Linked DNA regions of Homo sapiens. Each later gene encodes a partner of the first gene's protein in a complex. Each region holds a gene or a part of one and is shown on either strand. Other genes may lie near its edges. A codon is read from its position in the direction of its gene.

What was found.
Region 2: the proteins of USP15 (region 1) and SART3 are in contact, whole or in part, in a crystal structure (PDB 5JJW), measured with the Homo sapiens proteins. Residues at the interface, in NP_001239007.1 of Homo sapiens: Ser23 (codon at 2,923), Leu24 (codon at 2,920), Asp48, Trp50, Gly121, Met122, Phe123, Val124, Lys125, His126, Lys128; in NP_055521.1 of Homo sapiens: Ser438, Ser439, Lys440, Glu443, Gln490, Arg493, Glu494, Trp496, Asp497, Met500, Thr501, Ala505, Trp511, Tyr514, Arg533, Cys537.

What each region holds. Positions count from the first base shown.
Region 1 is NC_000012.12:62,250,755-62,263,403, reverse strand, and holds the start of USP15 (ubiquitin carboxyl-terminal hydrolase 15), read right to left. Parts: upstream 3,001-12,649; 5' UTR 2,990-3,000; coding exon 2,901-2,989; intron 1-2,900. Other genes in the region: TAFA2 (chemokine-like protein TAFA-2), read left to right, coding at 3,860-3,925, 4,562-4,641. UniProt on the Homo sapiens protein: Hydrolase that removes conjugated ubiquitin from target proteins and regulates various pathways such as the TGF-beta receptor signaling, NF-kappa-B and RNF41/NRDP1-PRKN pathways.
Region 2 is NC_000012.12:108,553,449-108,566,204, forward strand, and holds the start of SART3 (spliceosome associated factor 3, U4/U6 recycling protein), read right to left. Parts: upstream 7,726-12,756; 5' UTR 7,707-7,725; coding exon 7,395-7,706; intron 1-7,394. Other genes in the region: iron-sulfur cluster assembly enzyme ISCU isoform 2 precursor, read left to right, coding at 9,175-9,288, 10,831-10,944, 11,873-11,983. UniProt on the Homo sapiens protein: U6 snRNP-binding protein that functions as a recycling factor of the splicing machinery. Promotes the initial reassembly of U4 and U6 snRNPs following their ejection from the spliceosome during its maturation.

The DNA.
Region 1 (12,649 bases):
AAGTGCTCAAAAGCTAGTAAATGAAATTTATTCACTGTGATGCATATGACTATAACTTCAGACATGTGTATTAAACTTTCAAGAATAAACTTATGGTAAACCCACCATTTTTTCTCAACAGCCCAATCAGTCTTTCCTAGACAGTTACATACATATGCCACGACAATATTCCACAGGGCAAATTTCAAATAACCTGATTCAAAGATTAAAAAAAGATATTAAAAGGAAAAACAACTTTCTAGTGAGTTCCAAAAACATAAACTAAATTATTACATATCACCACCAGTTCTGTACCTGTAAGTTCATCATCAAATTTATACTTATCAAATTATTCTCTTTAAAATTCTGAATCAAATTTTTGCTCTCTACTACTTTGTTTTTGGACAGGTTTCACTTGCTAATTTGCAAATAAACTGGCTCACAAATAAACCAAACTGGTTTCTGCAACTCCCAGTACCATCTTTCTCTTGCAGTTTTTTTCCTTTAAGAGAAAATTAACGTGAGGATAAACTTGCACAATCTGCTTTTATCTAAATATGTGGCCCTCAGTTTACTTTTATTTAAAATAAAAGCACTGAAATGACTTAAATTTATGAGCCTCTTGTATTTAGTCATGGTTCATACTTGTAATACTAGCATTTTGGGAGGCTGAGGTGGATCACTTGAAGCCAGGAGTTCAAGATCAGCATGGGCAATATAGTGAGACACTGTACCTATACAGCTATACACGCACACACACACGCACATATATAAAACAATTTACATTAATTTTGTAAAAAAGCAAAAATATACTTATTTGAAAATACCAAACTTCATAAAGTTAAACGCCCACAATGCACATATTGCTCCTATCATCCTGTAGTGTCAATGCTACCAATTACTCTATATACAAAAACGTGACATTAATGAGAGACAATAACACTTATATTTTAACTTATAGACTTACAGATTTCTATTTTAAGGAAATTCACTTTTTAAAATAAGGTGGTACTAGGTTGGGTGAATTAAGAATTTTTAAATGTTCTTTAACTTACAATAGCCAGCGGGGACTTATTTGTCATTACCACAAGCCAAGGTAAACATGGGTGTCCTAGGAAATGTCCAATTTCCCCACAGTAATAAACATCTAACATTATAATAAAAACAATAACTTTTTTTTTTCTTTTTTTGAGATGGAGTCTCACGTTGCCCAGGCTAGAGTGCAGTGGCCGGATCTCGGCTCACTGCAACCTCCGCTTCCTAGGCTCAGGCAATCCTCCCACCTCAGCCTCCTGAGTAGCTGGGACCACAGGCGTGCCACCATGCCCAGCTAATTTTTTTGTATTTTTGTAGAGACGGGGTTTCACCATGGTGCCCAGGCTGGTCTGGAACTCCTGAGTTCAAGTGATCCTCCCTCCTCGGCCTCCCAAAGTGCTGGGTTACAGGCGTGAACCACCCTGCCAGGCCAACAATAACTATTATTAAGTCACTTGAAGATTCTATTTTTTTGATATAATGAAACAAGTATGTATTTACATCCTTAGGGATTTCTATCATACAAACATAGTATATAGCCTACCAAAAAAGAAAAAAGAGACTAAGACTTAGATCAAGGTTAAATTAAGGTCCTAAGTCTGCCACCTATTAGCTTAACTGAAAATGATCCCAATATCACAGCCTTTTGTCAGGAGTAAAGAGCAGAGATAAGAGGATAACTAAAATTTGATATCTCATAAATATGAAATTCTTAAGATATTAAAACGAATCAAGATAAAATCCTTATAATAAAATTACTGTCCATTTTACAGCATGAAGATAATGAGGTGCAATGATTTAAATTAACTCTCCTCAAAGCCATACTGCAAGTTGAGTGGTGAAACTGTGACATAACTCAGGTCTAAATCTTACTGTTCCTTTCACTATGCCATACTGAAACACTCTATGAATTATATACTACTGTTATGGTAACAGTGGAAAGTGAAAATATGTTTTATTATAATGAAGAGGCACATTATGCTTCCCAAAAAATAAGGAATTTTAAATTATGTTACATATTCACATATTTAAGTTATTGTAGATGCCACTTGATATGGTCGACAAGTGTGAAAATGTCCACATACATCCTTCAGTATTTTAAATGTATAACCTTTGGTATTTTACAAGTTTGAATATTAGCAGTTAGTTAAGCCTCAAGTGGACTTATCTACTTTTTGCAGGCCTACATTATCTTTCAAACAGAAGGGAAGGGCTGCACGTCTAACAGAAACGCTGCCGGCTTCTATCAAGCCACCACTAAAGCACAAGACCACGTGGTCTCTCATAAGCCCAAGGTTCCCTACTCCTCTCCCTCCTTTGACAAGGAACTGGAAACTAGGGTTTCTTTCTCTTATGTGGAGCCCTGACATGCCACCTGTGTAGTACAGACCGCAAACATCCTGCAGCCTGCCTCCCGGAAGACCAAGAATCAGAATAAAAGGGAACTTGGACGCCGACAATTCTAGGAAAGGAAATGAACAGAGAAGTAAAGCCGGTGAGATCGTGATAAGCCGCGGCACCGGGACCTGTCAAAACGGCGTATATAAGACTCAAACCAAACCACTATAACCTATCATTCGGGAAGGCCTGAGGTGGGAGCGGCACTACGGAAGGAAGGAGGACGAAGAGAACCGCACGAGTCAGAACCGCCGCCGCCGCCGCTCCCCGGATACCTTTCAGCATGCCCTGGCAAGCCAAGAACCCTGACCCTCATCTAGAGTCCAACCTTTGCCCCAACATTTCAGAAGCGGCCAAAATCCCGCTGCCCCGGCGGCCGCCGCCGGACCTGCCCGCACCTGTCACTAGCGAAAGAACCAGCTCGCGGCTCCCGCCCACTTCTCCACTATCCTCGGGCAACCGCGGGCATCTCAACCCCTTTCTCTTACCAGGTGTCCCCTTTCCGGAGCGAGGTTTTGAGCAGCGTCGCGATGTCAGACCGCTGGGTGTCCAGATCCGCCGCTCCGCCTTCCGCCATCTTCTTCCACTAGCGGTAGGGGAGGTGGCAGCGACGGCGGCGGCACGCCCCAGAGCATTATGGGAATGGCGTCCCACGGCCCCTCCCAGTCGGCCGGTCGAAACCAAAAGACACCGGGAGCGGGGGTGCTCCTCGGGACAAGAGGAGGCCCCGGGGGCGCACTGGGTGCGCGGCCATGGTCTGCTGCCCCCCATCGGTCCCCGCCCGTCCAGCATCTTGCCTTGGCCTCCTCTGGCCCGGGACTGCCGGGTTTTAGCTTTCCTCGCCGCCGAGGGCTCTGGCTCTCTCTCGCTAGAGGGATGCCACCGCCCTGTCCTCCCGTCCTCAGCGTTGCCTTCCCCTCCCTCTTTCCCACTGACGCCTTGAAAACCCTTATTTGCGCATTCACTCACGCTTGAGGGTGAGGTAGGGTGGGGCGGTGGTGTGGGGGCGTGGGGACGGCTAAGATATGGCAGAAAATGTAGCAGCTCAGTGACTGGGCTTTTCGTTACGAGTGGGAGAACCCAAGCTCGGTGAATATGGGCACACACAAAAAACACTCCGAAACCGAACGCTTGGTCTCCATGCCCTTCCTGGGTTCCTTCCAGCGCTCTTACTCCCGTTGTAGGTGGGGACCCTTTATAGGCTCTTTGTGACGCCTCCCCAGGCACACCCAGACGACTAAGCTGCAGTGAAAAACATGTCCCAGTTCATCGGTGAACAGGGAGTAGAATATGGACAGTATTGAATAATGCCAGATACTAAAGGAAGAAAACGTGCGAGAAACCCTCTTGTTTATACAGGATAGTAACATTTTCTTAGCCCCATCTTCGTATGGTGCCGTACACCTGAAATGAAACTAGATATGTCTTTAATTTGAAGTCAACGATTATGTTACAAAATAGAAAATCGAGTCGCTTAAAAATCAAATGCCAAGGTCACACAGCAGGTGGAGAGGTGAGTGGAGAGGCTGGTTCAAGAGCCCACATGCTATACAGTATAGCACACTCACTGCCTCTCCTTCTGAAAGCCTGAACTAAAATGTAAACTCTTTAAGAGCTGGAACTGGGTTCATCTTTTGTTTTAGCCTTTGTACACCTGGTGGTTAGCACAGTACTGATGGACATGTAAAAATTACCTAAATATTTGTTTAGTAAATGAATTGTGGCAAAATTACTTAAGTATTCCCGAGCATGATGTCCAGGGGTGTGATTTTAACATACCATATTGATGTGAAAAGTCTAAAAGATGGGCCGGAATCCCCACATCATTTCTCGTTTGCCCATTTTAAACCCTAACTCATTTGGTGAGAATGCGATAAAGGTAGGTGTAGTTATGCTAGTAGGAAGTGCTGAATCCAAGTGAAAGTAGTGTATATTGGCATTATGATTTGTGTATATCAGTATTATGATTATGATTGCTTATTTCTGCGTAATAATACTATTTTGCATTATCATGCCAACCTTGAATTGAGAGTTTTAAAACAACTTTCAGTGACTGCTATTTCTGGCTTTTCTCCTGACAGGTTAAAAGATTAAGAGTTTCTCTAACCACGGCTACCCTCTAAAAGTCACATTTTCCCCCTTTTTCCAGTCACTCTCTGAAAGAGAACAAAGTAATTTTCTGAAGGGAAGCTGCAGAATATGGAAAACATATATTGGAGCTACATGGATGTAAGTTCAAACCTCACTTCAACCTTTAGCTGCAAAGTTCTTGCCCTTTAATTGAATCATAAAATTGAGTATAATAATACCTACCTTAAGGGATTTTTATGAAGATTAAATGAAACAATTTGTGTTTATTGCCTGGGACGTAATAGCCATTCAATAAACACTAGTATTGTTTATTGATGACAGGGTGAATTGTACAGTATGTGAATTATACCTCAATAAAGCTATTGAAAAAAGGTGTTAGGGGCTTTGAAGGCAAAACTGTGCTCTCCTTCATTGTATAAACATAACATAACCAAGTAGCAATAAATCATTTATACCCTAATGTCCACTTTCCCTTAAGAGAAAATGCATTTTTGAAGTGTTGACAGCTACAACCATACAATGAAGTAAAATAATATTTTCTTCACTTGCACCATGCTCAAGGCAGCAGGTTAACTGGATATAGACGTGTAAATTCAATGCCAATTTGAATTATACATCAGATTTATGGAGCCGTTTTGTAGACCTAAGTAACTGCCATCAGAGTCAGGAAAGAGATAAAATTATAGTATTTTATTTAGCAAGCACTTACAGAGTGCCTAGCATGGTTCTAAACACTTTAAAATACTAACTTAATTCTCACAGCAATCACATGATTTTGGTACTATTATTATTTCAAGTCTATAGATAAGGAATTGAGGCAAGTAAGTGGCAGAACCTAAATTGAAACCAGGCAGTCTGGCTGCAGAATCTGGAAAGTTTGGGTAAACTTCAATTTTTCTATTGACCTTTATTATTTTGTTTACAGCAATCAACGTTTTAGTGATCTCAGTTGATCAGTTTATGGAAATTCTGCTTATTTTACTGGTGCTTCTCTCAATTATGAAGAGAAATAAGATATTGTTCATAAATTGGTTAAAGTCCACATCCCTACTGAATAATTAAGTAGATAAATTGATGAGAAAAGCTACTTCACCTTAATCACCAATAATTGAATATAAATCAGGGATTATATCTGCTTATTTAGAATGAATGTCTTCACTGATGCATTCCTTAGTTAACTTTTGATGAATGTACCAGTTTGCTTGGTGATTGTTATTGCCTTCTCAGACTCTCTGTACCTTTTTTGTCAATTTAAAACGTAACCTAGAGAGCTGAGTATGCTGAGTACTTAGGCTAGATATGAACAAGCTGGACCTCTTAAAGTCACAGTTGGTTGTGAAATTAGAGATTCTCTAGGAAGGATTCCTTTACCCTCTAGTAATTCCAAACCTCTCTGCTTACTGATATTTAAACAATTCCTTTAAGAGAGGTTCTTTTACTCAACAATTAAGAGATGGGACTTCAAATGTAAATACTCCAGGAGAGAGTTAGGTTTAAAACTAAAGTGTCAAAGAGAGCCAGTTTTCAGCCTGGGGTGAACCAGAGAAAAAAAGCACTGCATTTTGTAATACAGTTTAATGGAAGAAAGTACAAAGGAGAATTTCAAGATAAGTTTTGCCTATTTCATAATTTTTTGTGGGACTGGCTACATGAGCCTAAGGGAAAAATCTGCCTAAAATTTGAGTGGACTTAGCAAATCACACACACACACACACACACACACACACACACACACACATATATATGTATATATATATACACATGTACATACACACACACAGAATCAGCACATCCCATAAAAGAACAGTGTTTGATGACTGGCTGTCTTTATTTCTCAACTCTTCCTGTCTTTGATATTCAGGAACCACTGTCTCAGTTTTTCCTTCTCCTTGTCCTTCCTCTACAGTTATTCCCGCCCACGACCCTACCACCCCCTCATTCTTACTCACCTCTCTAAACCTTTCATTCTTTTATCTTATGTAATTGTATAATTCTCGTCTCTCTTTACCAGCTCTCAGAGCAGCTAAAAGGCAGTGGAAAGGCGGGGGAGTAGTGCAAACACCAAAATAGCATGTAGTAAAGTGCTTAATCTGTTAATGATATTTTGAAACTTGGGATATGAATAAAAATTGTAAGTGCCACGAGGCACTTTTGAAAGCTAAAAAAAATTACGGAGGGTCCTTATTTCAGACAAATGTTAGGTTCTGAAAAAGAGAATGAAAATATAGTAAGATGAAAACACTGCCTTTTACAAAGAGCCACTATACTTGGATTTTGACTCTGGCTCAGTGCCACTTGCTAGCTGGTAACCTTGGCTAAGTTATTTATTCTCTGTGACCATTCGTTTTCTTATTATAAAATAAAGTGATTAGATTTCGGAGGCTGAAACTCAAATACTTGCAGGGGTTAGATACAGCTAATGTAAATGGGTGAAGGAAATCTGTTGGGGATAATAAGGAGTTGTGGGACTGTTGAGCTGTCTATCCCAATTAAAGGTCTAAATTTAAAAAAATTAGAGCAAACAAAATTATATTTTCTGTCCTATAGGATCTAGAAAGTTTAATTTTAGCATGGGCATAAGGTCTACAAATTAATTAATCTAGGTTCCTACTTTATATCCTTTTTTTTTTTGGAGATGGAGTCTCACTCTGTTGCCCAGGCTGGAGTGCAATGGCATGATCTGGGCTCACTGCAACCTCTGCCTCCCGGGTTCAAGCGATTCTCCTGCCTCAGCTTCTTGAGTAGCTGGGATTACAGGCACCTGTCAACATGCCTGGCTAAATTTTGTATTTTTAGTAGAGACAGGGTTTCACCATGCTGGCCAGGCTGGTCTCAAACTCCCGACCTCTGGCGATCTGCCCGCCTCAGCCTCCCAAAGTGCTGGGATTAAAGGCATGAGCCACGTGCCTGGCCTATCCTCTTTTTAAGAAGTACATAAAGTGTACTAGAAAGCTGACTATACCATGAAATTTGATATCAGTCTGCCCTATAGTGGACTCTCACTACATGCTAATAGAACTAAATTGATTTGTTTTTATTTATTTGAGACAGAGTCTCACTCTCCAGTTGCCCAGACTGGAGTGCAGTGGTATGATCTCCGCTCACTGCAACCTTCGCCTCTCAAGTTCAAGAGATTCTCGTGCCTCAGCCTCCTGAGTAGCTGGGATTACATGCATGTGCCACCATGCCCAGCCTAATTTTTGTATTTTTAGTAGAGATGGGGTTTCACCATGTTGGCCAGGCTGGTCTCGATCTCCTGACCTCAAGTGATCCACCTGCCTCAGCCTCCCAAAGTGCTGCGATTACAGGCATGAGCCACTGTGCCTGGCCAGAACTAAATTGATTTGAATTGATAAGCAAATCAAGTATCTAACAGGTCTATAATTATAATAAAAAAACCTTAATAGGCATAGTATATTCTGCAGGTCCTGAATATTTAAAAATTAAATGTACGTGTATGGTAGGAAACTTTCAAGAAAGTGTTAATTTATCCCATTCAACTAAGAGTGATATAGATAAAATCAAGGTTCATAGTAGGAAAAATCTGCCTACTTTATATTTTCTTGTTATTTACATTTATTGACAGATTTCAAGGTTGATAAAGAACCTCTACATGAAAATATTGAAATGTTTAAGCAGCCTCTGAAGTCTTTCTTAAGCCTCATAATAATGGATGGACTTTAGAAAGCTAAAAATCATTTCAAATATGCTGATCATTTTTAAATTTTTATACTCATTTAAAAATATGCTGATCTTTTGTTTTAAATGTCAAATTTAATTAAAATACGTTAATGTTATATACTTGATCCGTTTTACTTTAAATCTGTTTCATTCGAAAGTTTAAAAATAATTATTTTATGCTCATGGATCTTGGAAATCTATACTACCAAAGTGAAGTAGAGAGTTGTTCAATGGTCCAGTGATTCTGCAGCTATATAGATTCCAGAGAGATTAACTTTGTTTTCTCCCAAGAGAAGCTGAATTATTCAGACTTTCTGTTTGGACAACCCTTCACTTCATTTGGGCTGAGATGGCAAAAGGATTTAAATTGCTCACAAAGAGTCTTAGAACAATATAATAGCATGTCTTCAAGAATGTATCTATGTTTCAGGACTGATGGAAACATTAAATAGGTATTCTTTATAATGTGTTCCAGGTTTTGCTAAGCAACAGGACACTATAGACCACACAGTAGATTTAGGTCAAATTAGAAGATACCAACAATGAAGTAAAAAACAAGTCTAGTGATTTCATAAAAATATTTACCATTGATTTTTGTTTCTAGCCAGTATGCTTCTATCTAGGTCGTCTTGAACTATGTCAGTTCAAGAATTATTAGTGGCCCAAGGCTTCTGTGTAATACATTGGACATGATTTCTACAGCATGAGAAATTCATGAAATGTGCTGGATGTATAGTATACCTCTACAAATAATTTAATTTACTCAATGGGAATTTATTAAGGATATAGTGAAAATAGTATGCATTTTAGAGTCAAAAAGACCTATATTTGTATGCCCTACTCCGATACTTAACTAGTTCTGTGATACTGGAAACATTAGTTTTCTCATCTGTAAAATAGTGATACTAGACTTCTTTTATAGGATTCATTTAAAGGTGAATAAAATAATGAATGTGAAACTCATATTAGAGCTTAACATATAGTAGTAATGATTTATAAAATATTTGCCTCCCTTAGACCAGAGCAGCTACTAAATTTGATTTTAATAATAAGATAAACAAATTAATAAGATCACAAAGTTGTTATGTAATAACATAAACAGCTGTGTTAAAATTAGTAGTGACCCATATCAAAGAAACACAATTACAAAGAGATTAAGAAGGATAATATTTAAAGTGTAGCTTTACTCAGTCTTTTGTGTGAAGGTATTCTTAGGGATAAAACAATGTATTTGGAAGCTGTTGGAAGAATATGGTGCAAAGAATATTTTTAAATGCTTGTGAATGTTCTGTAACCACAAACATAGATACATAACAGATCAAAGACATATTTTAGACTGCCATGTGGACTTAAATCATGGAAGGCAGAAGAGTGGCTCCCCAAAGAGGACTATATCGTAATACCAGAACTTGTGAATATATTACTTTAAATGGCAAAAGGGACTTTACAGATGTGATTAAAATTAAGGACCTTGAAATGGGGGGATTTTCCTGAATAATTCAGTTGGGTCCAATCTAATCATATGAATCCTTAAAAGTAGGAGACACTTTCCTGGTTATGGCCAGAGAGTGATGTGACTATGGAAGAATGGCTTTGAAGATGGAATAAAGGGGCCATGAGCCAAGGAATGTGGAAGGCTTCTCGAATTTAGAAGGAACAAGGAAATGAATTCTCTGTTAAAGCCTCCAGAAAGGATCAGAGCCTTGCTAAAACCTTGATTTTTAGCACAGTAAGAATTGTGTCAGACTTTTACAGAAATGTAAGAGACAATACTTCTGTTGTCTCAGTCACTAAGTTTATGGTAATTTGTTATAGCAGTGATAAGTAGTAGAAGAGCCTACTTTAAGGAAGAAGAAATGTTAGAAAGTTTAGGACTAGGAAGTCTGATGAGAAAGTATGTGGATGGACCTATGGGACTCGGCACAAAGTGTAAAGATTTTTGCATTACAAGTGAACACCAACCATAAAGGATATATCACAAAAGAGGTACTGAATAAACAGAATGACTCCAATGGTTGGCATCAACAAGCTTCTATCCTCAAAGCTGGAACAATGGGCACAAGAAGGGTAGTCATCATGACTGTGGATGGCCCCACAGCATGAGCTCTCACTTACCAACAGTGATTTGGCTATTGCTGCTGCCAAATGTCCAACCTGTCAGGAACAGAGACCAATATTGAGCCCTTGATATAGAATCATCCATGGAGGAGAATCAAATGACAAGTTAATTACATGGATCCCTTCTATTATGTAAGGGGCAATGAATGATTCATCTTGATTAGAATTGACACATATTTCAGGTATGGATTTTCCTTTCCTGCCAATAGTGCTTCAGCTGCTTCCACCATACTTATGGAGTGTTTGATCTCATGACACAGGATCTTCCCAATATCACATCAAACAAAGGGATTCATTTTATTGCAAAAGAGATGTGGTAGTGAGCACGTGACCATGTGATTCACTGATTCTTTCACATAACACTTCACCCAGAACTGTAAACAATTGCCGGCCGGATAGAGCAACGGAATGGCCTGTTGAAGAATCAGCTTAAGCACCACCTTAGATACAATAATACCCTATGCAGTATACCCTCTGAATCAATGGCCAGCATATGTTGCTGTGTTCCCAGCAAATAGAATTTATGGATATGGGAATCAAATGTAGAAGTAGAGGTGGTCCTGTTTACCATCATTGTCAGTGACCCAATTGGGGATTTTGTGCTACTCATCTCCATAGCTCTGAGATTTGTAGGTTTAGAGGTATTGTTCCCAAAAGGTGAGCATTTCCACCAGGAGACACAGCAAGAGGCCCAGTGAACTTTAAACTATGGCTGTCACTGGGGCATTTCTGCCTTCTACTGCCAAAGGATCAGGCAACGAGAGCAGTCACCATCCTGGCAGGTTTATCATTCTAAATACTGGGAGGAGGTCAGGCTGCTCTTATACAGTGATGGCAAAAAGGAATGTATTTGGCATCTCTTGGTATGCCCTTGCACAACTTTGACAGTAAATTGACTAGTAAAGTATTGATGACCTGAGAAAGGTATGGTGACTCTCAAGGATGAGTGACTGGATCATCCCACCAGGTAAGCCAACAAGACCAGCAGAGGAGCTAGTCAAGGTGAGGAAACTCTAGAATGGTAGATCAGGAAGCATATATTGAGTATCACTTTTGGTCTTTGCAATGGAATCTATGTATCTCGCTAACTTTCTTCCCAAGTTCTGGAGCTGCTTCAAAAACTTTTGCAAAAATAAAGGTCTGAGTGGAGCATGGGGTGAATTGAATTGGATAATCTACTGTGCCATTAACATCATCCTTCATGACTAAAGAATTTATTCCTCTAGCTGCTGGGATTTCTACTGATCTCAGCTGTCAGTCTTCTTTGGGAATCACTCTCAATAGAAAAGAGGCACCCTGTGTAGTTCATGCTCTCTTCAGGGGGCAGCCAGTGTGCAATAACTAATTGATGTAGGGTTTTAAAGACTTGGCTTCATTTCCTCTATTGGAAACAACTGTGAGGAGCAATCTAGCTTCAGTGGGTTGGTTAAGTTCTTTTTATAAATTAATTACAGCCCACTTTCTTTCTCTGCTCAATCTTGTTTGCTTCCTTTCTTCCACAAGTGTTGATCCTGAGAGCACTTCTTTACAGGCTATTTTCCATCTCAGAGTCTGCTTTCAGGGCACTTGGGCCTGCACCACACCCTTGTTTTGGTCTTTACCCTGGCAGTGGCCAAAATTTACTTTTTCTTTGAGCTGGGGACATGTTGAGAAACAGTTTCATTTTTAAGCCTACAACTTTCAGTATTTCTAAACTCTCTATTTCCTCTCAATTCTGTTTGTAACCCAGGCAGTTCATTTTGAGCTCACCACTTTCTTATGCTTTTTCAAAGGCACCTGGCAGCAGCCTGCTCTTCAATATTCTTCTTTGAAATCACCTCATCCAAATTCACAAGTTTACTAGATCTGCATGTTCTGTATTCCATAGTATTGCAGGTGACAATTTTACCAAATGTTTTGCCACTGCATAATACTGTTGTCATTATTCCAGCCTCCTATAACAATTACATGACTACCTGCTGCCCATTCCCAAAGCCAGTGCCACATATTTTGGGTTTTAGTTATGGCAGCACTGTACTTTATACATCAAATTCTGAATCAGCCCAATTTTTCTGACTTTCAAAACACCCAAAGTCCTAGTGCCATACAACAATATACGCATATTTCCTACTCATGCATTTTTGGGTTAGCTGGAGATTGGCTGGTCTTGGCGAGACTCAGCTGCTCTCTGAGGATTAGGTCAGGTCCTGGTCTGTTCCACATATCTCTCATCCTCTTTAAACCAGAGGCTAGCTGAGTCATGTTCTCGTTGCAAAAAGAGATCAAGAGACAAGCCTAACTATGCAAGACCTCAATTAATATCAGGGAAGTACATTCCTTCTGTAGGAGAGGGGAAGGGAGTAATCAT
Region 2 (12,756 bases), about 46 Mb from region 1:
TTGTTTAAAAAGCTTTTGTTGGGATATAGGGATAATTTAAGTCTGTACACCAAGACTTCATTAGTATCTACTCTTCCAACATCTGCCACATTTTAGGAATATTTCCCTCTCCAGAGATAAAAGATTACCTACACTTCATTCAAATTACACTCTACCATCTGACAACATACCCTAATAATCCAGGTACTAGATATTTAATTAAAATACAGAAAGACAGCCAATGAATATGATTACTTGAACTTTAGGATAAAAATCTTAACAATGAAGTAGCCAGTGAACCTTTAAATGGAGTGGGGACAAGGACCAACCATTCAGAGAATACAAATATGAAGGATTACGGGGTTTTGTTCAAGTGTTTAGATTTTAAACAAGAACTCATTATCTTTCTCTACTAATTATAATAGTAAAACCCTTCCATGGCTTCCCAGTATCCTAGGAACAATTTGCAAATCCCTGCCTCATGTGCAATCCCAGCATGCTGGGCTCATCTCTCCAGCTACATCTCAAACCACCGGCCTCTCAACATGGCAGCCAGCTTCGTGTAACTCAAACATTCCAACGTCTCTCCAACCTCAGGGCTAGGCACCTGCTGCTCCTTCAGCCCAGAAGGATCTCTCACCTTCTCTCTGCCTAGCCACCCCTTTTCATACTTCAGGTATAAACTTCACTTCCTCAGAGGGCGCCCCCGGCCCCCCTCCTATGCCACTCTTTCTTAAGTAGCCCCCTATATGCTGCAAGCTGTTTTCCATCTCATCATCGTGTTTATTTCCATCATGACCTAAAGGCTTCATGGGATAAGTACCTTGTATGTCTTATCCTTGACTTGGTTAGATTCTTTACCTACCTGGCACACAGAATTCAATAAATTACATGTCAATCTCACTCAAGAGCATTAATACAAAAATCCTAAATAAAATATTAAAAAATCAGAAATGTATAAAGAGAACAATACATAATGATCAATTTGGGTCTATCCCAGGAATGCAAGGGTGTTTTTACACTACAAAATCATCCAGTATAATTTTTCCACCATCAGATTTGAGGGAAAAAAACATGATTACCTCAATGAAGAAATAGCATTTGATTAAAACATCCATTCATGAGTCAAAATTAAGAATTAGCAAACTAGGAATAGAAAGGCACTTCCTTAACCTGATTTTTAAAATCTGCAATAAATATATTTTAATAACATATTTATATATTTATTATATTGTTTATTATATATTTATATATTTATATTTAGTAAATTTAATAATACATTAAAATTCCTTTTAAAAAACACAAAAAACTTCCCAGTATTGCCTTCTATTTAACCCTGTACTGGAGGTCTGGGGTTTTAACAATGAGACAAGGAAAAGAAACAGATATAGAGAAAAGAATGAGAACTGTTAATTATGGTCAGATGATATCAATGTATAGTAAACCAAAACTCATCTACAAACAAATCATTTGGAAATAATAAACAAGATTAGCAAAGTGACAAGCAATAAGAGCAATGTATAAAAATCAATTATATACAAAGAGACAAATACTGTATGATTCCACTTATATGAAGTATCTAGTCAAATTCATAGAGACAGAAAACTACAATGGTAGTTATCAGGGGATTGGGAAGGAAGGAGAAGGAGAGCTGTTTAATTGGTAGAGTTGTATATATGCAAATGAAAACTTTGGAGATCTGCTTCACAACAATGTGACTATACTTAACACTACTGAACCATACACTTAAGAATAAGATAGCAAAGTTTACGTTATATGTTTTTTACAATAAAAAAATTACATTTCTATAAACCAGCAAGCTTTAAAATGTAATTTTAAATAGGATAGCATAAACATCAAGCACTATAAAGTACCTAGAAATACATCTAACAAAAGATGTGTGAGACCTCTATGGCAAAATGTTTTTAAACTTGATTGAAAGATATTAAAGACTTGGCCGGGGGCGGTGGCTCACACCTGTAATCCCAGCACTGTGGGAGGCCGAGGCAGGCAGATCACTTGAGTCCAGGAATTCAAGACCAGCCTGGGCAACAGGGCAAAACCCCGTCTCTACAAAAACTGTAAAAATTAGCTGAGTCTGGTGGCACATGCCTGTGGTCCCAGCTACTCGAAAGGCTGAGGTGAAAGGATCGCTTCAGCCCAGCAGGCGGAGGTTGCAGTGTGCTGAGATCATGCCACTGTACTCCAGCCTGGGAAACAGAGCAGGACCATGTCTCAAAAATAGAAAGAATATTCAATACCTAGACGAATGGAGTTATATGCATGTTCTGGGTTAGAATAATCATTATGGCAAAGACGTCAATTCTCCCCTAAATAATCCATAAATTCAATGCAATTCAAATAAAAAAACCAACAGGGTTTTTCACAGACCTTGACAAAATAATTCTAAAATTTATATGAAAGAGCCAAAACACCCTGCAAGGAAAGAAAAAAAGCAGGTAGGAGGATTTGTCTTACCAGATAGCAAGCCTTAGCAATAAGTTAATCAGTGGAATTGGCACAGGATAGACAAACTGAAGAGAGAGCCCAAAACAGACCCATGCAGTTGAAAAACACTATGGCTCAGGTGGCACTTGCTGTTTCAGCTAAAATAAATTCACAACCTATGACTATGACCCCCAGGTTGAAAAACAGTGACTTTGAGAAACTCTCTTTTTTTTTTTTTGAGTCAGGGTCTCACTCTTACCCAGGCTGGAGTGCCGTGGCAGTCACAAATCACTGCAGCCTCAAATTCCCAGGCTCAAGTGATCCTCCCGCCTCAGCCTCTTGAGTAGCTGCTACTACAAGCTCATGCCACCACACATAGCTAAATGTTTTAAATTTATTTTTTGTAAACACAGGGTCTCACCATCTTGCCCAGTCTGGTCTCAAACTCCTGGGCTCAAGGGATCATCCTGCCTCAGCCTCCCAAAATGCTAGGACTACAGGTGTGAGCCACTGCATCTGGTGAGAAACTCTTGTACATGATGTGAACTGCTTTGTATTTATCAAATTACATGCCAAAAGATAATAATCAATTACAGATAAGAACATGATCTCTAAGTTTTAAATCTTAAGACTTTTAGCAATGTTCTCCTGCTTATGATTCATAAAACCTGAGAAGCTGAACTCATCCGATGATCACACGATAGGCTGAAAAGCACTGGACCAGATCAGGACACAAGTGTTCTAATCCCCACTTGTTCTGTTTCCTCATCTGTACCATGAAAGAGCTGGGCTAAAGCTCTGGTTCTTAAATGGGCTATCATGACACACTGATGTTTCAAAATCACCTATCAAGTGTGTCACACAAAGTAACCGCAGTTTGGGATGTTTGAGAAGTGAAGTTTGAGAAGGATACACTTTCTTCATTAAAGAACATTCAAGGCTCTCCCCACCACATCACCAGTCTGAACTCAATAGAGTGTGCTTGCGGAGCACAAACAGGAGTGGGAGAGCACTTGCTAGTCAGTGTCACGAATATCTATGCATGCAAGTGCCCCTCACATGAACACCATGTGTGGATCAGCAGAAGAAAAAGGTATAAAAGTCGCTAAAGTCAAGAAGCTGACTTTTAAGGTGTGGCTTTTGGTGTAAACTTCTGATTTTTAGGGTAAAATGATGAAGATACTATATGTGGACAAGTACTCTGAAAGTACATATATTAAATACATACTGAAATGCACTTAAAAGAGCTATTTCCACATAGTTCAATCTATACTGATAAATGAGTACATATGCTGGTCTATTCTGGTCTTAGAACATCATTAATGACATAGTTTTTTTTTTTTTTTTTTTTTTTTTGAGGTGGAATCTTGCTCTGTCACCCAGGCTGGAGTGCAGTGGTGTGATCTCAGTTCACTGCAACCTCTGCCTCCCGGGTTCAGGCGATTCTCCTGCCTCAGCCTCCCGAGTAGCTGGGATTAACAACATAGATGCTTTAAAGGAAACTTAACCAATCACAAAATGATCTGCTAACTGATTTAACTCCCTAGCAATGTGAAAAATGTGTTATACCTAGCTGTACTAGAATGGGGGAGAAATAATAGAGAGGACTGATGGAAAGAAAACAACTGGTGCAATCAAAGGCAGGGAAGGGAGAATGGAGCAGCACCTATTATGCGCCAAACTGTGCCAGGCGCTTTACGCACATTGTGCCATGCCCCACAACAGTCCCATGAGGAAAGCACTATTACAACCTTCATTTTACTAACTGGGACACCCAAGACTCTGCGAGCTGAAATAACTTGTACAAGGCCTTTCCACTACTCAATGGAAGGCTTGGGTTCAGGGTTGCAAAGCCATAGTCTCCGTACTGCTGCACTGACAAATCTGCCGAAGCCACCATGAAGTGCCACTTTTAATTTCAGCGCACAAACACATATAATGGAAAATATTTGCTTTTGTTAGACAGATACCACAGCAAACTGCCAGCTACCATAAAATATAATCAAGGCCACGTGCAGTAGCTTGCGCCTGTGATCCGAGCACTTTGGGAGGCTGAGGCAGGAGCATCACTTCAGCTCAGGAATTCAGCACCTGCCTGGGCAACATAGTAAGAACCCATCTCTACAAAAAAAAAATATTTTTAATTAGCCAGGCATGGGGGTGCATGCCTGTAGTCCGAGATACTTTGGAGGATGAGCTGGGAGGATCACTTGAGCCTGGGAGGTCCTAGCTGCAGTGAGCCATGATCACACCACTACTCCAGCATGGGCAAGAGTGAGATGCTCTCAAAAAAAAAAATTAATAAACACTGAGGGATGAGAACCAGAACTCTCAAATATGGCAAGGCCAAGTTTCTCACAGACCTATTTGGAAGCAATTCATCATTATGCTCCGCCATAAAAGCAGTTACAGCAGGAAGAAGCAGCTGTGGGATCAGGATGAGGTGGGTGGGAGGCTTGGAGAAACTGGACAAGTCCATTTCTAGACCACAGGACAAAGAGGATAAGGCCAGAGGGTCTTCAGTTCATCACTTGCCAGGTCCTATCCTGTGTGGTCCATTCTAAACTCCACCCCATCCTTGGTGATCTGTGGCAGGACAGGCAACTGCAGAGTACTAGTGGCCAGAGACCTCTGCTCTCCCCTTTCTTGCTCTTTAGCAAGCTGTGTACCCTCACCAAGGACTTAACCTCTCTGGTCCCAAACCTCTCTTTCCCCACCTCACAGAATAGGCTCATCGAAAGGCCCAGGACTAGCAGTCTGAAGAAATGACATCAACAAGGGCAGGGACACAGTCAATCTGGTACCCAGTGTCACGCTGTGTTTGCTGAATGAGTAAGACTAAATTAGCTTCAGCACACTTATTTATAAAAAGTAGAGGGCAGGCGCGGTGGCTCACGCCTGTAATCCCAGCACTTTGGGAGGCCGAGGCGGGCGGATCACGAGGTCAGGAGATCGAGACCATCCTGGCTAAAACGGTGAAACCCCATCTCTACTAAAAATAGTAAAAATTAGCCGGACTTGGTGGCGGGCGCCTGTAGTCCCAGCTACTCGGGGGGCTGAGGCAGGAGAATGGCATGAACCCGGGAGGCGGAGCTTGCAGTGAGCCGAGATCGTGCCACTGCACTCCAGCCTGGGCCACAGAGCAAGACTCCGTCTCAAAAAAGAAAAAAAAAAAAAAAAAAAAAAGTAGAAATGCTAACCACCTGCCAACCCCAACAGGTTCCTCTGACAATCAGATGTAATGGGTGGGACAAGCTATACCAATGGATGACATCACTATCTCATAACAAAAATATCAGTGCCAGAGAGAGTATTATAAGGAAACTGACACTCAGTAAGGTTTAATGAGTAAACTAGATTAGCAACTTCACATTCACTGAGTGATTTCACATCCAGTGTGGCATCTAGTCCACATTTTAAGTGTAAATCCCACTATGAATAACTTAAAGGAAATCATTTCATCATTTGTTCTGAACCTCTGTTTCTTCATCTGTAAAAAGAGAATGCGGGCCGGGCGTAGCGGCTCACACCTGTAATCTCAGCACTACGGGAGGCCAAGGTGGGTGGATCACCTGAGGTCAGGAATTCAAGAGCAGCCTGACCAACATGGTGAAACCCCGTCTCTACTAAAAATACAGAAATCAGCCGGGCGCAATGGTGCGTGCCTGGATCCCAGCTACTGGGGAGGCTGAGGCAGGAGAATCGCTTGAACCAGGGCGGCAGAGGTTGCAGTGACACGAGATGGTGCCATTGCACTCCAGTCTGGGTGACAGGGCGAGACTCTGTCTCAAAAAAAAAAAAAAAAAAAAAAAGAGAGAATGTGCTCCATCTCTTCTGTTTGCCCCCTCCAAAAAACACCCTACCCTCTCCTCCCTGCCCTGTGTCCCCGAGTATAGACCTCATGCACAGGTTTCCTGGCTCTCCAGCTTCCAGATGGGTCTGCCCAGCAGGAGGCACCAGCAGAAGTTTGGTGGGAGGAAGAAAGAGAGGTCAGGGTATTTCTTCCCCCACCTCAATCCTTGACAGGAAACTGGGGCTGCTTCCCTTGAACAAAGTTATCAGCAGGTCTCAGGTGCCCTCTCCACACAATTCAGATCACACCCTTCACCCCTTCCGGCCCAAAGATGGACACCAGGTTCTGGAGTTACCAGCTATGGGATACTAAACCTTCACTCCCGATTTCCCTACCCACACCTTTATTGAGTTTCTCTCAGATCATCCTAATTTAAATGTGCCACCTATTTCCTGCTGAGATCCTGGATTATACAGTAGATATCACCACCTCATAAGGTTACAAGTGAGAGACCATGTTATGACTAGATGCTAGGCACTGAGCTATAGTTACTGTTACAACAATTATATTATGCAGAAATTGTTGCTCCCAATCTGCAGATAAGGAAGTCGAGAGGGTGAGAGAAATTAAGAAATTCTTACAAGCACATACAAGAGTTGAACAGCTAGAACTGAGGCCTTAACCTCCAGAACCAGAAACCTTTCCATTTCTATTATCACCATCGCGGTCAATATTTTTCTTACCACAAGTTTCATCATCGCCGTCATTCCTACATAACAAAATAACACTCTCTTGCGAATGAGTTTATTTCTACTGTTGGACGTGTGGTTAAGAGTGGGAGTTCTGGAATGGGATCAAAGTACAAGGCCTGACTTGCAGGAAGTGTTATCTTGAGCAAGAAACTTTCCTCCACGAGCCTCAGTTTCCTCCAGTAAAATGGGGATAGATAACAGGGCTTCCTTCACAGGGTCGTGGCGAGGATTCAATGAGATAACGTTTGCAAGGCAATGGGCAGGCAGTAAGCACTCAAATCCGACAGGAGCTACTGTCACGAAAAGCGGGTTTGCAGCCTTGGCGGCTTTATCGCCGCCGAGGACTAGGGAGGCGGGCCAGGACATGGGGACCCGAGGACCTGAAAGACTGGAAGATGCCCGCTGCCCACCCCCGGGCCCACCTGCTCCTCCAGTCTCTCAATCTCCAGCTGGTTTTTCTCCTCCTCTTCGTCATATTCCCACTCGTACTCCCCGGGGGAGCTCTCCGCGGAGGAAGCCATGGCGTACTCATCCCCATCGCTCTCGCTCACGCCTTCCTCCTGCTGATCCCACGCTGGCCCCATGGTCTTGTATGTCGCAGCGGCCACAGCCCGCGATAACACCTTCCTCCTTGTCCTAGCCGCCTTAACCTCATCCTCCTCTCCGTCAGCCTTGGGCCCAGCCTTGGACTCAGCCTCGGGTTCTGAAGCCGAGGTTTCGGCCGCAGTCGCCATCTTGCGCTTCTAATGACTCTCGGGTCTTCCCGCGGCCGCCGAAGACCCGCTGAGGCAGAAGCTGCCCGCGGCGCGCGCCTTATCAAAAACCCGTTTTCTTGCCATTGAAAGAGAAACTGGGAACTTAGATAACAGGAAAATCTCCACATACACTAAATTCACATTATTTTATACCCTGTAAAAGCTCCCACCAGATATAAAAACTCATTATAATGGCATGCGTTCCGTCACAACTTCGGACAGAAGTTGGGTCTTTGGGCAGGAAGTGGAAGCCATAGAGGAAGTCATGGAGCGAGAGTGATGTCTGTAGTGAAGAATTTGGCGCCATCTTGAGAAGGTCAAAGTGATTCTTCGATTAAATGCCTTACTTATCGCCTAGTGTGACCTGGCGCTTGGGTTTACTCTCCCCAGCAACTGCGCCTCAAACGCAAAGAAAACTGCAGGTCCTCGGGGAAGGATCGATTTCACCATTCAAGAGAAAAATCCATTTCCCAGATTCCTCCCCTTTATGTAAACGTCTGGTACCTAGTAGACGTTAAATACACGTGAGTTTTCCGGTTTTATAAGATCACATACTGCAAACCAACAGTAAATTACATTAATACGCATTTCTTTAGAAATTCTTAATTGCTAGGCACTGACATATAAATTGAGTTTGCTGTTGTTTTAGAGAGAAAAATAGACATATTCATTTTTTTTCAATCAGGACATGGTATTCGTTTCCTTCTTAAGCTTCCCATTTTTGAGGTAGGAAAGTATTGGTGTGTGTCTCTATCTCTACCTTGCTCCCTCATTAGCAGGCTTAATGGGCAGGAATTATGTCTGTTTTGCTTTCCGTTGGATCCCCGGGTCTAGTAGAGCGCCTTGACACATAGTAGGTACTCGACACAGATGCTGGCTTCATGATGAAGCAATTGTCCTCGAATTAATACAAAAGGGAAGATTCAGACTCAGCGAGCCGGTACCATTCGTCTAGGGACACACAGCCAGGAAGGAACCGAACCAGGATTCTAACCCAGGATTACCCAAGTTCGAATTCTAATTGAACATAAGTCCTTAGCGACCTTGGACGGACTTACTAAACTGCCCTGAATCTCGGCTTCCTTAGCTGCAAAATAGGGTTAGGAAAAGTGGACTCGGTGCTCCTCTGCGCCGCATTCCCGCAGCGGGATTTGTGAAAGCGAACTTGAGCCCCACACTGCAGAAGCCCTGAGGTCCTGTCTCAACCAGAATCCAGCACCCAGGACAAGCCCTCCAGCGACTTCAGACCTTCCCGCTCCCGACCCCGCCCGCCCCCGAGAGGCGTGGTCAAGGCGGGGCCAGAAGGCGGACGCGTGCACGGAGCGGTAAAGCGCAGGCGCAAAGCTTCGGTGACGTCAGAGAGGCGCGCTCCCAGCTCGGAGCCGACTCGCAGACGCGCCCCGCCCCTCGGCGTCGCTCTGGACTGGCGCAGGCGCAAGCCGGCAAGATGGCGGCGGCTGGGGCTTTCCGTCTGAGGCGGGCGGCATCGGCTCTGCTGCTGCGGAGCCCCCGCCTGCCCGCCCGGGAGCTGTCGGCCCCGGCCCGACTCTATCACAAGAAGGTAGGGACAAAAGAGGGACGCGCGGAATGCCGACTCAGCGGAGGCCTGGGCTGGAGGGGCGGCCGCGGGGTTCTGCGCAGCTAGGACTGGGAGCTGTCCCCTCCCACGTCTTTGCCCTGACTCGCTTTCCCTTGCTGCGCAGTGAGGCTCACTGCAACTGATAAACAACAGTTACCGCTCATCGGGCGGCGACTTCCAGGGGGCCCCGCCGCTGGCCGCGACTTCGTGCGTCCCAATTTTAAATTCGCCAACAGCCCAGGAGGCAGGGTCCTGTTGGGACTTGTCTTTCTGAGTCCAGGGACAGACACACCCCCGGAGCGGGCTCCGGCTTCAGCCACTCCGCTGCCCTGGCCAGATGACCTTGGGCTAGTCACTGCGCCTCTCTGAACCTGTTTCCCCAGGTGTAAATGGGGGGCTCTCAGCTGTCCCTTACAAAGGATACTGTGCGTGGAGTCCTGGCATGGTTCCTGGCACATAGGCCCCAGCACGAGGAGACCGTTTCTGTTACTGCTTTAGGAGTGCATAGGGGAGTCAGGCTTGTAACCAACATGCGTAATGTTTTTGTTTTGTTTGGGGGGTTTTTTGGCGGGGAAGGAGGGATAGATTCATAGTCTGCAGCCCCTTGCTGTCTGGTGGCACAAAGTCCCCCAGACGTGAGACTCCCACTCGAGAAACAACTAAAGAATGCCATAAATCAACGTGGCACAAAAGGCCCCTACATTAGATACTATCCTGAGGTCCCTTTTACTTGGAGTCAAAATCCTTAGTCAGATGGGGGGAAAAGGGGACTGGAAGATCGGCGTGCTTACTACTAACCAGTAACCAAACCTCAAGGTTATTAAGGCCTTCTGTGTGCCAGTTCGAATGGATGTTTATTGTGATCTGGCTTCTGCCCTTTCTCCAAGGGCTTCTTCACTCCTCCCCCTCCCGGGGGTGTGTTTTGTTGAGGGTACACCCTGAAGAAACTTGGACTAGCAGCCTTTCAGCAGCCAGGGTGCGCTGCTGCACCAGGGTGATGACAGGCTGTGAAATACGGTAATGGCACTGTTTTTATTTTAAAAGACACATAAACGTACACATTCCATAGCATTGTTCCCTGTGTAACAGTCACCTTAAGGCTTCTAAGAAAGCTTTCCCTCCCTGGGCCATGGTTATTTTTAGAATTTTTAAATAGTAATCATCCTTTGAGGATGGATTTTATTTGAAAATAACAAAACTGCTGTTTGAGCCCAAGTCTGGTGATGTAGGTGGGTGAAAGTCAAGTATTTTTGTAAAAATCCTATGGAACTAAGACATGATTTCACTGATTTTTTTTTCTTCTAGGTATCTCAAATCTGTGAAGTATTGTAGAGGAGACACAAAAGGAATTGGGGGTCACAAATGGTTCTCATTGACATGAGTGTAGACCTTTCTACTCAGGTGAAATTTGGTATTTAGTGATTGCCTGCCAGGTTCAAGATGCTGACCGAGGAGCTTACCATCAAACCAGAGACCAGTACCAATAGAGAGTGAACATGATTTATCTTAACCCTCTCATTTTAGGTTGTTGATCATTATGAAAATCCTAGAAACGTGGGGTCCCTTGACAAGACATCTAAAAATGTTGGAACTGGACTGGTGGGGGCTCCAGCATGTGGTGACGTAATGAAATTACAGGTATGGCTAGTCTTTTTTAATAGTGATAACAATAATCCCTTTAAGTTTACAAAGCACTTGCGCATTTCACTTGGTCTCCATCTTTATTCCTGTGAGATCTCCAAGCATTTCACTTGGTCTCCATTCCTGTGAGATGGGATGAGTCCATGTTAGATATGACTGGAGCAGGGCCTCAATCGTAGCTCTCCTGCTAGGCTAGTGTACTATGCCAACTTTTTCCAAAATAGAAAAGTAATCTCATTTTTGTACTCACTGTATCAGTTTAAATTCTGACTTCAGCCAACTAAAGAGTTTTGTGAATTTTACTGATCAAAGGAAAATCCCAGTGAGCTAGCAGTCCCCAATGAAACAAGAAACACAGTAAATTAAACCTGTCCCCAGATTGGGGGAAACATGAAAATAGTGTCTAGTGCTTTGGGTAAACTGTAGTTGTAGCACCAATCTGCTGCTTCATGGTGAGTGGGCAGCTTGCCAGAGGTCTTCATACCTATCTTGGAATACAGAAACAAAACAGGAGGAAACCACTAAGTGTAATCTGCTGCCCAAGAAAAAAGTATTAACCAGAGACCTTTATTGTGGACTCTGTCAGTGTTTAAAGAGGCCAGATTGCCCCAGCAGCTGTGAGCAGACTTCCACAAATAGAAGTTCATAGCCAAAATGCAGGCCAGAGTCACAAAACAAAAGAATATTGGAGTGGAGGGACATATTTTTCAGCTGATCTTTGTCAGTTGGGCCTGGATAGTTGTCCCTGCATTTCACTTTTCATCACTGAGCTCTTTGAAACAAGGCAAAGTCAGTAATTAATGCCATCACTTAGTGTGGAAAGCAAGCCCAAAGCCCTTGGGGAAGGCCCTGGTGAACCTTCGTGAGTGCCAGGTTCCAGAGGGTGGTCCCAGGACTCACCACTTAACTCTTGTCTCTTTTCTAGATTCAAGTGGATGAAAAGGGGAAGATTGTGGATGCTAGGTTTAAAACATTTGGCTGTGGTTCCGCAATTGCCTCCAGCTCATTAGCCACTGAATGGGTGAAAGGAAAGACGGTAAGGTGGCTCACAAATCTAATGGGTCAAAAACAAGTAACCATGACTTTTTTTTAATATTCTAAATTTTTAAAATTTCTCCTATGCAGATGTTGATTATATTATCATTTCTTCAAATTGGGAATTATGGATCATTCTACTAGGTGTTGTTTGGGTTTTTTTCTTGTTGATCATTTTTATTTTTTTGTTTGTTTGGGTGTTAATTACATATAAAAAAGATCCTCACCTGTCCCTCTAACAAAATAGAATTTAAAAGAAATCTTTGGCTTTCTCTAAGGTTACCAGTGCTCTTATAATTTCTCAAGTCAGAGAGTTGTTATAAGGTAGTTATTTTCTTGTTTATTTCCTCTCATGTTTCAGGAAGGGTTCTAGGTGGCTTTCAAGAATTGGTGAAATAAACTAGCCTGTGTTAAAAGAGGGATTAAATAATCAAAAAGACAGCAAGGGTGGGGGCAAAGTGAACAACGAAATCAGAACAGTGATCCAGGTGGCTGATCGCAAGCCCTCTAAAGGCAGAGATAATAAAGAGCTAGAACTTCTTTTTCATCCCTTTGTCTCCCAAGTGTCTTTCCCTGGTAGCTGCAGAGGTCAAAGGTCCCAAACACAGTGAAGAGCTGGACTTTCTAAAATCCAGTTGCTGTCAAAACCTCTCAGAAAAGCCAACCAGCAAGGCACTCATCTTTGCTGCCCCAAGGGACCAGGTTCAGGGAGCTGAGTCACAGAGGAGCATGCTTGGAAGCTGGCCAGCTCCACAGCAGAGCAGTTTGCCAGGC